2 separate regions of the Homo sapiens genome follow, and region 2 is linked to region 1. A link means that fine-mapping ties the variant in region 1 to the expression of a gene that starts in the linked region. Tissue or cell type: gastroesophageal junction. Region 1 holds a variant in brackets; the other region holds the start of a gene. All regions are shown on one strand. Distances are between the middles of the regions.

Region 1 (8,091 bases):
AGTGAGTTTTGGGCTGAAAACCCCAGGAAAGAGCTTTTGGCTTTGGGTGTTCACTAATTTATCTACACCTGAATTCTTGCTGTTTCATGGGAAGTGAATTTCCTGAGTGCTTGCTGTGTTCCTGGCACAGGGTCCAATGCCTTACATCTCTCTGTTTGAACCCATTTTACAAATAGGGAAATAAGTTCAGAAAGCTTGATGTCTTATCCAAGGTAATAGGCTCTCCAGAACCCAGGGCCAAGATCTTTTCTGTTCGACTTCCGTGCCTAAATCTGGCCTCCCCCAGTGAACACTGTCAGGCACTCAGAGCCAGGGCTTTGGGCAGGTGTGTTTGGTTCTGTTTCTCCTGGGGTGTGGGGTTGGAATATGGGAGTGGCCAGGCCTTCTAGGAGGCCCAGCCTTTACCCATTTGCCTTCTCTCTAGTTATCATCGCTGTGAGTTCAAGATCCCACTAGCCATAAAGAAAGGTGAGTAGTGAAAGCTCTCAGGGTAAGGGAGGGGTTTTAGAGTCTGTTTTCCACTATGAAAAGGGAGAAAGATCGAAGCAGTGGTTGGATGTGTGGAGCTTCTGCCCATGGCCTCAGTTCCTCTGGGGTGGGCTCATTGTTCTGGGGGCTGCAGTGTTCTTGGTCTGAGTCTCCTAGAGGCCCTTGAGGCCTCTTCCTATGACTGTGGGATTGCCGGCCTCTGGAGGGGAGAGTTTCTTATCTACAGATGATCATCCAGGGGGCCCCAGCCCATCCTTGTTGCCTGCCACCCACTGCCAATTGTTGTTGCTCACACCTGACTGACCTCCCTTCACCCCTCCATCCTCTTCCACCCTGGAACTCCAAAACAGCCTGTTAATCCTCCCCATGTACTCCAACCCCAGTGCAAAGGGACACCAGGTCTGGTTCCTACCTAGGGCTGGGGCCACAGGTAGGCTGGGCCAGCTACAAATCTGCCCCACTGTCTTCTCTTTTCAGAAAACGCAGATGGTCAGACAGAAACATGCACGACCTACAGCAAGGTGAGCACCTATCTTCCTACCTGGCATAGCCTGAGAATGAGGTGGACATGAGCCTGCAGGCAGTATGGGGCTGTGTCCTCTAGGCCAGCCATTGGTCACAGACATGTTCATGTCCCTACTAACCCCTGCTCCCCTCTATCCCTCTTGCAGTGGGACAACATCCAGGAGCTCCTGGGCCACCCTGTGGAGAAGCCTGTTGTCCTGCACAGGTGAGTGGGAGTTTGATGTCCCCGGCCACCCCACCTGACTCCTCAGAGCCCAGAAAGCCCAGGGAAGCCTGGCACAGTGGATGTTGCTTAAAAATTACAGAAGTTTCTGATATTGCCACAAGCATACTTCCTGCCCCACTCTGCACATTAGGACTGAGTCAACTGTTCTGTGTGTTCATCTTTGATAGAGAGAATGTCCCCAGGGGTAGCTCCCCTCTCCCAAGCCTACCTCTAGGTATGGGGGCCTTCTCACCCTCAGTTATTCAATAAGGAAGGAGGGCTTGGCTGGCTGGCCTGGGCTCTTTTTCCCTTTGAGCTTTGAGCTGCTGCCTGCTGAAGTCCACAGCCCCGTTCCTGGTTGCCATGCTGCCTGAGATTCTCTCACTCAAGAGGGCCCTCTTGACTCCTCGCCACCCTAGTCCAGTTCCACAGTAACTTTTTTGTCCTGTTGGGCTCTGTATGTATAATTCTGAGTTGAGTGAGACCATCCCTACCCCTAGGATCTTGCAGGCCTGTGTGGGAAACAGACAGACACTCACAGCCATGAGAGACTACTGGCCAGTATCCCATACCCCAGAAAAGACTGGATCCCTTGCTTTAAGGCCGTGGCCTCTGTCTGCCTCTCTAATTCTGAATTCTTTGGCCTCAGGTCTTCCTCCCCAAACAACACCAACCCATTTGGTTCCACATTCTGCTTTGGTCTTCAGCGAATGATCTTTGAGGTAAGCTGTGGAAGCCCTAGAAATAAACTGCCTGGGGGGTTGCTGGTCATGGCAGGGCCAGGTGAATGATGGAGGGAAATTGGGGAGGGCATCACTGCCATAGTGGGCAGATTCATCCTTCTTCAGCAACCGTGTCTGCTGCATACCTGGCCTCCCCACACTTAACAATGAAGGTTCAGAAATGATGTTGAGAAATCTGGGGTCACAGAGGCCGAAGCAGTGGTCTGTGTCCAACAAGATGGGAGGTAACGGATCCCAAGTTTCTATCTGACAACATGATTATAGCAGGGAAGGGAACCACAGGGCAAGTGGGGCCCAGCAGAGGGTGTTGGGGGCCCTCCAGTGGCATGTGAACAAATGCATTGTAGGGGAGTGAGTGGCTCTGGAGGCCCTGCTGACTTGGGAGAACAGCAAGCTGCCCTTGTTTTCCCTGTGGATGCAGTATCTCCAGCAGACACTTAACAGTTCCAGAAGGACTGGACACGTGGCCATGGTAAAGGCTGTGTGTAACCATTGAGAAACAGGCAGATCTCAGGCAGAGGGGGGCCTTTAGCATGAACCAGGGGAGGTTGAGGAGTCGGGAAACCCAGCCATTAGGTGCAGGTATGTCACACAACCTCCAGCCCTCATGCACAGGATCTGCCTACATCCCTTTACCTCTCCCCCTTGACCCACTGTCCTCTTCTCACACCAGGTCATGCAGAACAACCACATTGCCTCGGTGACCCTGTATGGCCCCCCCAGGCCTGGTAGCCACCTGAGAACAGCGGAACTCCCCTAGGGACACCACCACCCATGCCCCTCTGTCCCGTGGAACTGTGCATCACATCCTGCTCAGTGGGCCTCTGTACCACCCTGTGGGTTTTCTTGGACACCTGGCCAGTGCTGAAGGGCTGTTGTGATGTTCTGAGGTTGGGCTCAGGCTGGGTGCTCTGCCATGGGCTGAGTGGCCCAGATATTCTTCTGTCCATCTTTGGCCTGCTGGTGCCAGCAGGGGACACAGACTGCAAAGAGAAGCACAAAGTTTGAGCCTTGATTCCTGGACCCAGGAGCTCTCAACTAACAAGGAGGCAGGAGAGGTCAACCCTTGTCCCATGCACATTGGGAAGACTTGGGGCTCTTTCTGTGACTGAGGACACAGGCACCCAGGATAAGGACAAGGTCCTGCCTTTGGCTCCACATTGCCACATGACCCTTAAGGCAAGCAGGTAGCGTGTCCATAGTACTTGGTTGCGACATTTGCACTACATCCACTTTAGTTACTTGATGAGCTGGCTGTGGCCAGGGTGGCCCACCTGCCCTTCCCTGTTCCTTTCTTGCACGCGCTCCCTGCCTGGGCACACCAAACTGGTTGAAACACAGCTTTCTACCATCCAGGTACATGCCCAGGCCTGGTTCTCACCCCTGTTGGAGTCAGCTTTCAAGATTGCCTGTGCCCCTGCTCTGCCCCATCCTGGCTGGCAGGGCTGCATGTTTCCATCCTGTTTGCCTCTTTTATTTAATGCCAAAGTTTTAGCCAAAGACATCTTCCTACTTTTGTTGTGTTTCAGCATTCTGTTCTGCACTGTGGGCTGGCTCTCTGCCCCAACCCTGGGCACTGGCCCCTGGCTGGGCCATTTCATGGCTCAAAGCCTCTGGGGGCTCAAGGAAGGCTGGGCTGCTCAGTCCCTTCATGGGTCTTGCTAATGGAAAGTAGCATATATGTGCTTTAAAAATATTAATCCTTTTGAAAAGAACTGAGAAGA[A/G]AAATGTATAATTTTATCCCATTTTTAATATTTTGGTCTAGCAACTTGTGATACATAGATGACAATTTTGTGAGTTTTTCAAATGTGTGTACAGATTTTTGTAAATATGACTCTTTTGTAATTAACTCATGTACAGCCTCATCCTGTATAGTTTAATGATGAATGTGCAGGGGACCTGTCTCAGGCTCCTATATGGTTCCTGGGCCTTATAGCCAGGTTTGTGTGGCGCTCCCGACTTTTGTGACTGACTGGTGTCTTCCCATTTGGACTGTGGCCTGGCCAGAGCCCCTTGCATATCCCCACTGTCAGGGGCAGCCAGGACTGTTCCCATCCTCCTGGAATGGGGGAACCTTCCTTATCCCCTGCCCACATCCCCTCTCCAATAAAGCACCTGTGCCCTCAGCAATGGCCTGCCATGTGCTGTTGCTGGGATGTTTGTATTAAGGTAAGTGTGGGTATTGGTTTTTTGAGCAAGGGGGTGGTTGAAGCATATGGGGAAATTAATAGTGGTGGCATCTCAGGGGAAGACATTCCTTGGCTCCTCTGAGGGGATACAGCCTCCAGTGGGAGACTGGCATTGTTGTGTGAGTTCAGGAGGTGAGGAAAGACTAGGTAGGACCGTGCACTCATTTGTCCCTTATGTGTGGCTCCATCCCTGGTGCTCAGCCACACCTGGGCCCAGGAGAGGTTGTGGGAAGCATAATATCTGTTTTCAGATGAGCTATGGCAAAGTGCCTGCCAGGTTCATGAATTCAGGCTGTGGCGGCCGGAGCCCCTCCACCTCCCTGTGGGGCCTGGCCTTGAGAGCCTCTGCATACGTCCGCGTCAGCCTAGGGGGTTCCAAATCCAGCAGAGTGGTAGGATTCCCTAAGTCCCTGCCACCACACCAGAACACACCTCTGTGCTACTAGGAGGACCAGACATATCCACTGCTCTGGGACCTGTTGGACAAGAGATGGTCATCTACCACCCAGCCTTGGCTCGCTCAAAGGGTCACCATTACACGGGTTTCAACTGGTTCCAGCAGGGTGGACCGCCAGGAGCCAAGCTTAACCCCCATCCCCTGGGATCCTGTGGAGACAGGCACCTGGTGATCAGGGAAGAACCACATACACGGCAATAATCTGGGAAACCGGCTCCATTCTGGGTCTGAGTTAGGAGCTTGGGGCTGTAGTGGGGAGCTAGGAGTCCCATTGGAAGGGGCCTGCAGCGACAGGCTGTGGATGCGCACAGGCTGGCCCATGCGGCCCGTGCAGCAGGCGCCACATAAGCCAGATGTCAGCGGCCGAGAGCCCGTGCACTACAACCAGCTCACGGTAAAAGCAGGGGTCGAAGGTGCTCAAATGCGGCGCGGCTGAAGGCTGGGGGATGCCAAAGGTGCGGAAGGCAGGGTGAGGCTCGGGCGTGAGCCGCAGGCGCTGCAGACACATGCCCAGAAAGACGTCGTCGATGGGGAAGAGCTCGACCTGCGCACAGGCGCCAGCCAGGCGGTGCAGCGTGGCCCCGGAAAGCACAAAGCCACCGCCGCCCGCGTAGGCCGGATAGGCGGGCAGGCCGTACACGGCCTCGGGGATGTAGTACTTGCTAGCCCGCGTGCGGATGGGCCGCGCATGCACAATTACGTCACCAGCAAGCAGGTCTTGCGCCGGGTCCCGCGGCGCCAGGAACTCCAGGAGATTTCCCACGTTCACGAACACATCTGCGTCGCCCTTAAAAACGAAGCGCACGTCGGGGCAGAAAGCTGAGGCCCAGGCTAGAAAGTGGATCTCCTTGAGCGTTAGGTTAAAAAAGGTGTCGTCGAAGGCCCAGAGCAGGATGTCCGCATACGCAAGGCTCTCGGCCCGCAGCAGGGCGCGCCAGTGGGTTCGCGCGCCCTCCCCAACTTCGTCGGCCCCGCCCGAGCCTGCGCCCCTGGGCACGCCCAGCAAGAACACGCGGCGCACCAGCGCCCCCTGCACGCGACCCTCCGCGCCCCACGTCTGGCGCACGGCTTGGCGCCGCTCGAAGTCCTCTGCCACCGACTTGACAGCAATAAGCAGGTCCGGGCGGCCACCGGGTGCGCCGTCGCCGCGGCACTTGTGCGGCTGGTTAATGAGCAGTGGAAACCGCCGCTGGTCCTTGGCGCGCAAATAGCGGGCGAAGTCAAAGGGTCCCGTAGGCGTGGGCGGCGCCGGTGTGTCCCCTTCGTAGGCCGGCGGGGCTGCACCCGCGTCGGGTAACTGGAACGCGCGGGGTCCGGGGGTGGGCCTCGGTGCCGCCCTCCCTCGCCCTCGCGGCGCGCTCGCCGTCGGGGCCGCGCCGTCGCGCTGCGCATAGAGTAAGAGGCCCAGGGAGGCGCCAAGGAGCAGCGTGAGCAATGCGTCCCTGCGTAGGCGCAGCCTCCTCCTCATCTCCGCGCGGCCTGCGCCCTCCCTCCCCTGTAAGGGTCGCAGTCGGCAGCAGGGGGCAGCGAGCCCCGCCCTCCCCAGCTGAGGGGGCGGGAGGCCACGCCCCGGGGGGGGCTCCAGCGACCGACGGTTGAGCCCCTTGCGTTGTTCTCCTCCTCCCGGCCGTGTCGCACCGCCGGGACCGGCAGCCTGAAGGGACAAGAAGTTCACCCATGTAGCCAACTCCCCCGCGGCCTCAGCTCCGGCCCAGGACTGCGACCCAGGGCCGGGCAGGGAGACTGGGAGCCTCGGCCCCTCCCCCGCCCGCCTCCCTCGCGCTGAGGCCGAATCCCTTCCACCCTGCCATCCCCTCAATGTCGGGCCCTGGGGTCCCGACACTCACGCTCGGCCCTCGGAAGTGGCGCAGCCCCGGACGCCCTGGCCTCCGGGGCTCAGCGCAGGGTCCGAGGGGCCGCCATGGACCGGGCCCGAGCCAAATGCAGCGTTGGCAGGAAGGGGGACCGGTGCCGTGCCACGTGACCCTCCAGCTGTGCGCGCCCAGACTTCTGGAGCTCAGCTCCGCCCCGGCGCCAGGAGCACTCCGGCCTCAGAGTGGGGACTAATCCCTGAGAGGGAGCCTCCTCACTCTCAGTCCCTCTGGGAAGGGCTGGTCTGGGTGCTCACACCCCAAATTCGCCTTTCTGGGGATTGGGAAGAAGCATCAACTCCCCTGGTTAGCTCCCCCAACTATCCACTCCCCACTCCCGCGTCTCTGGAGTGGGGCGGAGCCTGGGCTGCTAGGAGCCCCTGAGCAGGCCGGTTCCAAATGCGCATGAACCTGGCCACCATCCCGGGCGGGCCTCTCCTCAGCAGCCCTGATTCCATCAGGCAGGGTGCATACGCTGCCCCCGAGACACATGGCTGTCTTCTTACTCCTGGTTCTGCCATGCTCCCCACCCCCAGTAAACACACGCACGGGACAAACAAGGCAGCCCACCCAATCCTCAGGGCAACTCTGCCAGCAGCTCTCATTCATGCCCAGATGGGGACACTGGGGGGCTCTTCGGGGAGTTAAGTGACTTGCCCAGGATCCAAAGGCCAGAAAGCTCTGCCCCCAGGTCTTCTGAAATTCAGGCCAGGATTATTTTATCTGTCCTTGCCCCGCTCATTCATCCACTGGGATACAGAACAGGGGGCCAACCCAGTCTGCTTTAATTTCACAGGCAAGCACTTCAGCCTGTCTCCCCGGGGGCTAATGGACCTGAGCCCAAGCCAGGTGCAGTTCTGAGTCCCCTGGTCCCCAGCATAGCCTACTGCAGGTAGAAATGATCAGGCCTGTGCAGCTGCAGGTCAGACAGGGCTGGCAAGGATGGGGACAGCTTGGGAAGACTCCTGGCGGAGGCCTTGGCTAAAGGATTGCTCTGGGATGCAGGTGGACAGAGGTGCTCTGCAATGGAGAGCTAAGTCCTTGCGCAGCTCAGCTGCCAGCTCTCTCTTTCTTGGTCCCAGCCCATGTGGTGGAGCCTGGAATAGACAGCCTCTACTGGTCTCTTAAGAACCCAGCCCCATCCTCTGTCCAAGGGCTATATCTGCTCCTGACGGCTTCTTCCCACCAATGTTCAATCTTAAAAAGCCACCTCTCTGGCTGGGTGTGGTGGCTTATGCCTGTAACCTCAACACTTTGGGAGGCTGAGGTGAGTGGATCACTTGAGGTCAGGAAGTCAAGACCAGCCTGGCCAACGTGGTGAAACCCCCATCTCTACTAAAAATACAAAAATTAGCTAGACATGGTGGTGGGCACCTGTAATCCCAGCTACTTAGAGGGCTGAGGCAGGAGAATTGCTTGAACCTGGAAGGTGGAGGTTGCAGTGAGCCAAGAACACACCACTGCACTCCATCCTGGGCAACAGAGCGAGACTGTCTCAAAAAAAAAAAAAGGCCAGTCGTGGTGGCTTACTCCTGTAATCCCAACACTTTGGGAGGCCAAGGCAGGTGGATCACTTGAGGCCAGGAGTTTGAGACCAGCCTGGCCAACATGG
Region 2 (8,091 bases), 39 kb before region 1:
CAGTGGTGGGACAGGGACAGAAAAATTGCAGGAAGCACTTGCCTTCAGAAAGGGGAAGAATGAAGTCACCGGTCAGTAACAATTATGAAATGACACTGGAAACCATTTGAGGGCCCTCTGCCCTAACAGAGGGGAGTGTTCTTTGTAAGGCCTATTAGGATGGGTTCCCTGCTCCACCATTTTCCATGACTTTTAGCCCCATCCCTCATTTGCTGTACACATTACCTGTCATTCCTGCTTTCAAACTGGCTTTAAAAAAAAAAATCTAACTGGGCGCGGTGGCTCACACCTGTAATCCCAGCACTTTAGGAGGCTGAGGCAGGTGGATCACCTAAAGACAGGAGTTCAAGACCAGCCTGGCCAACATGGTGAAACCTCGTCTCTACTAAAAATACAAAAATTAGCTGGGCATGGTGGCACGTGCCTGTAATCCTAGCTACTGGGGAGGCTGAAGCAGGAGAATCGCTTGAACCTGGGAGGCGGAGGTTGCAGTGAGCCGAGATCTCACCACTGCACTCCAGCCTGGGCAACAGAGTGAGACTCCGTCTCAAAAAAAAAAAAGAAAAAAAAATAACTTGGCAAATGCAATTAATAAATAACCATGGTACTAAGATTGTTTTCCAAGTTCTTCAAGTAATGTTTCAAGCTTGTTACATTTCTTCCCTTCCAAGTTATCACGTGACAGTTTTACCAGAAGGATTGACATCCTTCCAAACGCCAATGTCAGTTCCTCCAATCACCGTCCTTCCAGCTACCCAAGCTGGGAAAACTATGTCGTTATTCTTGACTCCCAGTCTCTCTCATCTCCCACATGCAATCTGTAAATCCTGCCAGTGGATTCCATCAATTCTGTTACTATTAGATGTTTTAAAATTTTAGTTATACACAAAGCAATTACCTGTAAGCCAGACACACAAGTACAGACCTCCTAACAAATCTGTGAGATTGTTACAGATTTTACAGAAGAAACTAAGGCATGGAGAGGCTAATTAACTTGTCAAGGCACAAAGCTATTAAGTGGCAGAACTGGGATTCAAATTTTGAGTCCCTGAGCTTAATCACCATGTTCTGACCTGAAGCTGTCCCTGCATGTCTGGCTTTGACTGCTACCATGACTACTTGCCCTCCCTGAATATGCTTTTCATTAGCCAATTCCATATTTCTGAACATCCCTACCCTCAGTTTGGGGGAATGGCTGTAGCTGACATTCTCCTGAGTTGGCCTGCTCCTGCCAGGCACCTTCTGCTTCTATTGTGTGTGTGTGTATTGGGCTCTGGGCCAAGGCCTCCTAATATCACCATCCCAAAGCTGTTATTCCCACCTTGGATAAAAACCTGGGTGAATCAACATTAAATGAGCAAAGATAAACTTCTGTTTATTTTTTTAGAGATACAGTCTCATTCTTTTGTTGCCTAGGCTGTACTGGAGTGCAGTACATAGCTCACTGCAGCCTCAAACTCCCAAGCTCGGCCGGGCGCGGTGGCTCACGCCTGTAATCCCAACACTTTGGGAGGCCGAGGCGGGCAGATCACAAGGTCAGGAGATCAAGACCATCCTGGCTAACACTGTGAAGCCCCGTCTCTACTAAAAATACAAAAAATTAGCCGGGCGTGGTGGCGGGCCCCTGTAGTCCCAGCTACTCGAGAGGCTGAGGCAGGAGAATGGCGTGAATCCGAGAGGCGGAGCTTGCAGTGAGCCAAGATGGCGCCACGGCGCCACTGCACCCCAGCCTGGGCGAGAGTGCGAGACTCCGTCTCAAAAACAAAAACAAAAAGCAACAACAACAACAACAACAAAACTCCCAGGCTTAAGTGGTCTTCCCACCTGAGCCTCCTGGGTAGCTGGGACTACCTGCATGTGCCACCACATCTGGCGTGTGTGTGTGTGTGTGTGTGTGTGTGTGTGTGTGTGTGTGTGTGTACGGGGTCTTGCTATATTGCCCAGGCTGGTCTCAAGCTCCTGGCCTCAAGCAATCCTCCCACTTCAGCCTCCCAAAGTGCTGAGATTATAGGCATGAGTTACCACACCTGGCCAGATAAACTTTTGTTGTTGACTAACATTGTTCACAGAAATCTGCCTACTATTCCAACAGGGAATTTCTTAGGGCGCTCCCCGACAACTTTGTTCTTTCTGTTTGGGGGTTACCCAAATTAGAAATCCTTTTCACTTTGTTATCCAGAATGATGTGGTTTCTTCTTTGTCTTGCCTCTGGTACAACCCCACTGGGCTTATCCCACAACCCCACTGGGCTTATCCCACCCCAATTTAGGCCCCACCCATCTTTCTCCTCCAGAAATAAGTCCCCTCCAAGTTTTGAGAGAGTCTTGCTCTGTTGCCCAGGCTGGCATGCAGTGGGGTGATAATTGGCTCACTGCAACCTCTACCTCCTGGATTCAAGTGATTCTCGTGCCTCAGCCTCCCAAGTAGCTGGGACTGCAGGCATGCACCACCACACCTAGCTATTTTTTCTATTTTTAGTAGAGACGGGTTTTCACCATGTTGGCCAGGGTGGTTTCAAACTCCTGACCTCAGGTGATCTGTCTGCCTCGGCCTCCCAAAGTGCTGGGATTACAGGCGTGAGCCACCGCGCCCAGCCAGACACTTTTAATTGACTAAGATTGCTCCTCACCAATCTTAAGATTTTTCCCCAGATTTCCTTCCCAAGCTATCTAGCCCAGCTGCCCAACTAGGCTTTTCTAAACATATCTTTAATGCTTGTCATGATAAGGAATAATGACCCCCTGATTCCTGTCCTCTGCCACTCTATTAGGTATGATTGACAATGTTTTATTTTTCCAGAAATGTTCTTTCTTTTTGGTACAGCCACTGTTTCTTTTATTTTTGTTTTTACAGAAAAAAAGGCCGGGGGAGGGGGGTGGTGGGTGGTCATGGTATGCATACTTCTGCACCTGGCTTTTTTCTCTTGGAGTTCCTTCCACATCAACATAGAGACCTACTTCACTTTTTATTATTTATTTATTTATTTAGAGACAGGATCTTGCTCTGTCATCCAGGCTGGAGCCCCGGGGCTCAATAATCACAGCTCACTGCAGCTATCCTCAAGCTATCCTCCCACCTCTCAGCCTCTTGAGTAGCTAGGACTCCTGGCCCAACCTACTGCCATGACACCAGCTAATTTTTTTTTTTAATAGAGACTGGGTCTTGCTATGTTGCCCAGGCTGGTCTCAACTCCCGGGCTCAACCGATCCTCCCACCTCATCCTCCCAAAGTGCTGGTATTACCGCTGTGAGCACTGCTCTCAGCATTCACCTTTAAAAACATATCTCTATCTATCTATCTATCTATCTATCTATCTATCTATCTATCTATCATCTATCTATCTATCTATCTATATCACGGTTTATTTAGCCACTTCCCTACTGGACATCTCAGTGACCCAGTTCTGTTGTTTTGGCATACAATGCTGCAGTGGACAACCTTCTCCATGTAGTTCATTTTAATCAAACAGCGACTTCAAATTTTGATAGAGCCTCCAAAGAAACGCTAGTATCAAGCCAGTTTGAGAATTTAGTATGCCACTCTCTCCCCTACTGAAAACCTTCTTCCAGGGGCAATGTAATGGAAAGGACTTGGGTTCTGCGCCTAGAACCAAGGAGCCTTGGGTCTTTAACATCTCTGGGCCTCATGTATTCGCCTATGTAAAGTCGGTATAATCTCGCATCTCAGGTTGGTTGTGAGAACCCAGAGACTGCCTCCGTGAAGGCTTGGCATCAGCATAGGCCTCGGCTGTCCTTTAGTTTCAGGGTGTCCCGGGGCACGGGCCAAAACCTCAGGCTGAACCTGCTAGAGGAACCTTCCTGTCCCTTGCAGATTAGGAAAACTGTGGCACAGAAAGCGCCAAGGGGTTGATCAAGACCCCCACAGCTTTGGTCCACGCTGCTGCCGGCGGCTTCGGATCCTGGTCCCGGGGGACTGCGCACATTTGGATGTGGTCAGCAGGGAGGCCTGGCCTGGCCCCTTCCTCTTCTACCCAGTCCTCTCCCCGAACCAATTCCGACCCCTAACGCCCACAGTCCTCACTCGCTTACGGTTCGACCCTTGCCCCAGGGGCGACTGGGTGGGGCCGTCATTCCTGAACAACTAAAAGCTGCTGCGGCCAGCGTCACCTCCGGCCCCAACGGAGACGGTGGGGGCCGTGAGGCTTAGGGACTCCGCGTCCTCCCTCCTGCTGGGCCTCAGCGTGCCCTCTGTACTTGCCTTCTGCTACCAGTGAACGTGAGTGGGACGTGTGTGTAGACAGCAGACGGGTCTTGTGCAGCTGTGTGACGTGTGTGTTGTGTGGTGAACCCTTCTTTATGTAGATATGTGAAGTGTGTGTGCTGTGGTGCACAGATGTAGGGGCTCACGAAGTACTGGGCTCCTTGCTCCTAGAGCCCGAACAGTTCCCAACGTTACAGCCCTGCCCGACTCAGCCTCCGCAGAGACGGCGGCGGGACCCGCAGTTTGCGCGTGCGCGGCTCCGCCCCAGGCTCCTCCCTCGCGCTGGCACTCCCGCCTTCGCCCGGCCCTCCCCGCGCTTTACGGCCCGGCACGCCACTTTTACTGCAGTCGCGCCCGCCGCCGTCGTTGCCCCCGCTGCCGCGGCTGCTGCAGGTGAGGTGAAGTGAGGTGAGGTGTGGTGTTGGGCCGGTGCTGCTGCCGCTGCCGCCGGGGAGGAGGTGGAAAGCGGGGCTGTGGCGGGCCGGCGGGGGCGGCCTGTCAGCCGCTGCTTTGTCTCCTTAGCTCGGGTCCCTTCTGCGCTGCCGCAGGGAGGCCGCCCGGGCCAGGCGAGCCGAACCAATGCTGGACCTGGAGGTAGTGCCCGAACGCTCTCTGGGGAACGAGCAATGGGAATTCACGCTGGGTGAGTTTGGGGTCCTCTGTCAGGACCCCATTCGCTGATCCTTGCTTTCTCCTGGGCTCTTCCCACCTGTTCTCAGTCTCTCACGCCCCTGCGCCCGCAGCTCCTCACCTCTTTCGTCCTCTCGGCTCGCTGGGCTCCAGGCACTAGATACCCGCTCCAACTGGCCCGATTTGCCTGTCAGTTGCTCGTCTCGGGTCTCAGCAGGGTCTCTTCTGGGACGGTGGAACAGTAGTAGTAAAGACAATAATAGCTTGCTCTCCCCAAATGCCTAATGCCCGGCCCTGCTCTTTTTGGACGTAATTCTCTCTAGTACCCCTCGCCGGCACCTGAGGATAGGTACTGTTGTTATTCCCATTTCCATTTTACAGACTAAATAATGGCTGAGAAGTGGCTGACCCCTCTGATCATCACTGTGGCCTGTGGTCTGTCTCCCACTGCTTTTCTGGGCTGTGGCTTCCTTCCCCTTTTTAGGAGGGGAAACCTAGGCTTGGAACCCATGATCAGATGTTGGGGCTCTGGTCAAGGGAGTTGAGTTTGTGTGTATTAAAGGAACAGCTGACTTGCTTCTCTCTTTTTTTTCTTTTTTTTTGAGACGAAGTCTCGCTCTGTCGCCCAGGCTGGAGTGCTGTTGCGTGATCTTGGCTCACTGCAACTTAACGCCTCGTGGGTTTAAGCGATTCTCCTGCCTCAGCCTCCCCAGTAGCTAGGATTACAGGCACGCGCCACCACACCCGGCTAATTTTTGTATTTTTAGTAGAGACGAGGTTTCACCATGTTGACCAGGCTGGCTGGTTTCGAATTCCTGACCTCGTGATCCGCCCACCTCGGCCTCCCAAAGTGCTGGGATTACAGGCGTGAGCCACTGCACCCGGCCCCGCTTCTCTCTCTTTTGAAATATAGTCTGTATCGGATGCTGTAATCCTAAACCCAGACCTCAGTTGTGACAGGTGAAGGTTGGATGAAATAGGAGTTAGGGAGAAGTAACATTTAGTTTCTAAAAAATGCAGTTTGGTCGTTTTGGGGTTTGCTGGCCCAGCCTTCTCCCTTCACCCTCTCCATTTCCAGCATCACTACTTTTATGTGTACAAGGATGTTTGCATTCAGTAACCCCTGTGTGTTTACTTTGATGTCCCAGCACTAAGAAAAGGGGGTGGGGTAGGTGTTGGTGCTGTTTGTTTGTGCAGGCCTGAACTTTAGTCACTCTAGTGTGAGCTACTGGACTAAATCAGCTGCTCCATTGGATTATAAATTATCCTTGACTCTGGAAGACTTATGTCTGTGGAGACAGTGTGTTGGAGAAACCAGGTGGTACAGATTGCTGGTAAGGCCCTGCTGATGCTTAGTGGCTACATATGTCCTGTGTGTTGTAAGAGCTAGTTTTTGTTGTTGGTGTTTTGTTTTAAGACAGAGTCACTCTGTTGCCCAGGTTGGAGTGCAGTGGCACAATATCGGCTCACTGCAACCTCTGCCTCCCGGGTTCAAGCAATTCTCTTGCCTCAGCCTCCCTACTAGTAGCTGGGATTACAGGCGTCTGCCACCACACCCGGCTAATTTTTGTATTTTTAGTAGAGATTGGGTTTCGCCATGTTGGCTAGGCTGGTCTCGAACTCCTGACTTCAAGTGATCCGCCTTGGCCTCCCAAAGTGCTAGGATTACAGGTGTGAGCCACCATGCCCAACCATAAAAGCCGGTTTAATTTAGGGGAGTTGGCCAAATTCTTTCATAACTTAACACCACTCCTGCAGAGTTCTTTCCAAAATATTAGCTGGTACAAAATGCTCCATTCTCTCGTGAAGCACTAAGAGCTTGGTTGGAAGGCTGGTGATACCATGCTAATGCTGTTTGGCTTCTGGTTAACTCCTTTCCTCCCCTCTCCTTGACAGCTTCTACCCAAGCAAGATCCTCCCACGGCTGGATAAAAACCACAACCATAGCTTCAAACTGTGCTTAGTAGTGTGACTAGGTTGTGGATCTCTTGGTGGTACAAGTATTCAGAGTCCCTTGGTCAAAAGCAGTGGTAGGGACTGGGTGCAGTAACTCATGGCTGTAATCCCAACACTTTGGGAAGCTGAGACAGGAGGATAGCTTGAAGCCAGGAGTTCAAGACCAGCCTAGGCAACATAGTGAGACCTCGTTTCTACCAAAAAAAAAAAAAAAAAAAAAAGCCAGGCCTGTAGTCTTAACTACTCGGGAGGCTGAGATGGAAGGATCACTTGAGGCTGGGAGGTCAAGGCTGCCGTGGGTCATGATCACACCACTGGGCGTGATCCTGGGTGACAGAGAGAGACCCTGTCTCAAGGAGACAAAAAAAAAAAGTAGTTACTAGGATATTAATTGAGATGAGGATTTCCAGAAAACTGAGTGAGAGAGCAAGGCTTCTCTCAGCTGTTGTTTTGATACCCTAACCCTGACTCCTAGCTCTGCTAGTTTCCCAGGAATCAAGGGTTTACACAGTTCTTACAAACTGTCTAAATAGCAACCAAAAACAGTGAGAAGGGCATTTCTGTATATTGGGTCAAGAATTGAATTTTAGGGGGAAGCTCATAGACTGGCCCAGAGGCTTCATGATTCCCTTGGGTCTTAAAATTCATTTTTACATGGTGTCTGCCTGAGAGATGGTGTTAATTTAACTTTATCAGACTTTAAAAATGGAAAGTCATTTTCCACCTCTGTCAATCTCCTCCCCCACCCTGAACACGTCCAAACTACATTTGGGGCTGTTAGGTAGGGATAGGTCTCGGAAGGGAATCTGCTTTAGAATTACATGCCTAGGCTAGTGAACCAGGAAGAACTTACCTCTTGCCACCACAGGCTTGTAAGATAGGTGTTGTTATCTCTTTTTGCCAGGTGAGGGACAGGCTCAGAGAGAGAGATGATAAACAAAAGTCGCCAAACAGGCATATCCTGCATGCCACTGCTCTTTCCTTCTGAAAGTGGACTCAACTTTGTCACCAGGTTTCTTATTGGAATCTGTGCAAATGCAGATGCAATTATCTGCCTGGCATCACAATGGGAAGCTGCATCCTGGCAGCTCCTTGGCTGCCTTCCTGGTTGTATAATGTTGGATGATTAGGGAAATGCGAGCAACACAGGGAAAGGAAAACCTAGGCCAAGCAGAATCTCTGTGAATATGAATGTCACTGATGATTTGACCAGCAGTGGAGTAAAGGCAGTGCAGATTTGAAATGTTTTGTTTTCTTTTTTTCTTTTTCTTTTTTTTTTTTTTT

Evidence for each region. PIP is the estimated chance that this variant, and not a neighbour inherited with it, causes the effect.
Region 2: PHAF1 starts here. The variant in region 1 is fine-mapped to the expression of PHAF1 in gastroesophageal junction (GTEx, PIP 0.98). The same link has a PIP of 0.9 or more in monocytes and monocytes after interferon gamma.

Annotation. Positions count from the first base shown.
Region 1 is chr16:67,144,410-67,152,500 of GRCh38, forward strand. PHAF1 (phagophore assembly factor 1) reads left to right here. Exons shown (of 16, transcript NM_025187.5): 12 at 425-468; 13 at 967-1,010; 14 at 1,161-1,219; 15 at 1,869-1,941; 16 at 2,636-4,135. The coding sequence ends at 2,722. B3GNT9 (UDP-GlcNAc:betaGal beta-1,3-N-acetylglucosaminyltransferase 9) reads right to left here and starts at 6,589. Exons shown (of 2, transcript NM_033309.3): 1 at 6,456-6,589; 2 at 3,695-6,262. The coding sequence starts at 6,076. The coding sequence ends at 4,868. RefSeq lists silencers at 5,945-6,374, 6,385-6,544. The variant A/G (reference allele first, on the strand shown) is at 3,687.
Region 2 is chr16:67,105,376-67,113,466 of GRCh38, forward strand. It overlaps PHAF1 (phagophore assembly factor 1), which reads left to right and starts at 4,566. Exons shown (of 16, transcript NM_025187.5): 1 at 4,566-4,864. The coding sequence starts at 4,801. RefSeq lists enhancers at 3,398-4,140, 4,141-4,882 and a silencer at 4,442-4,701.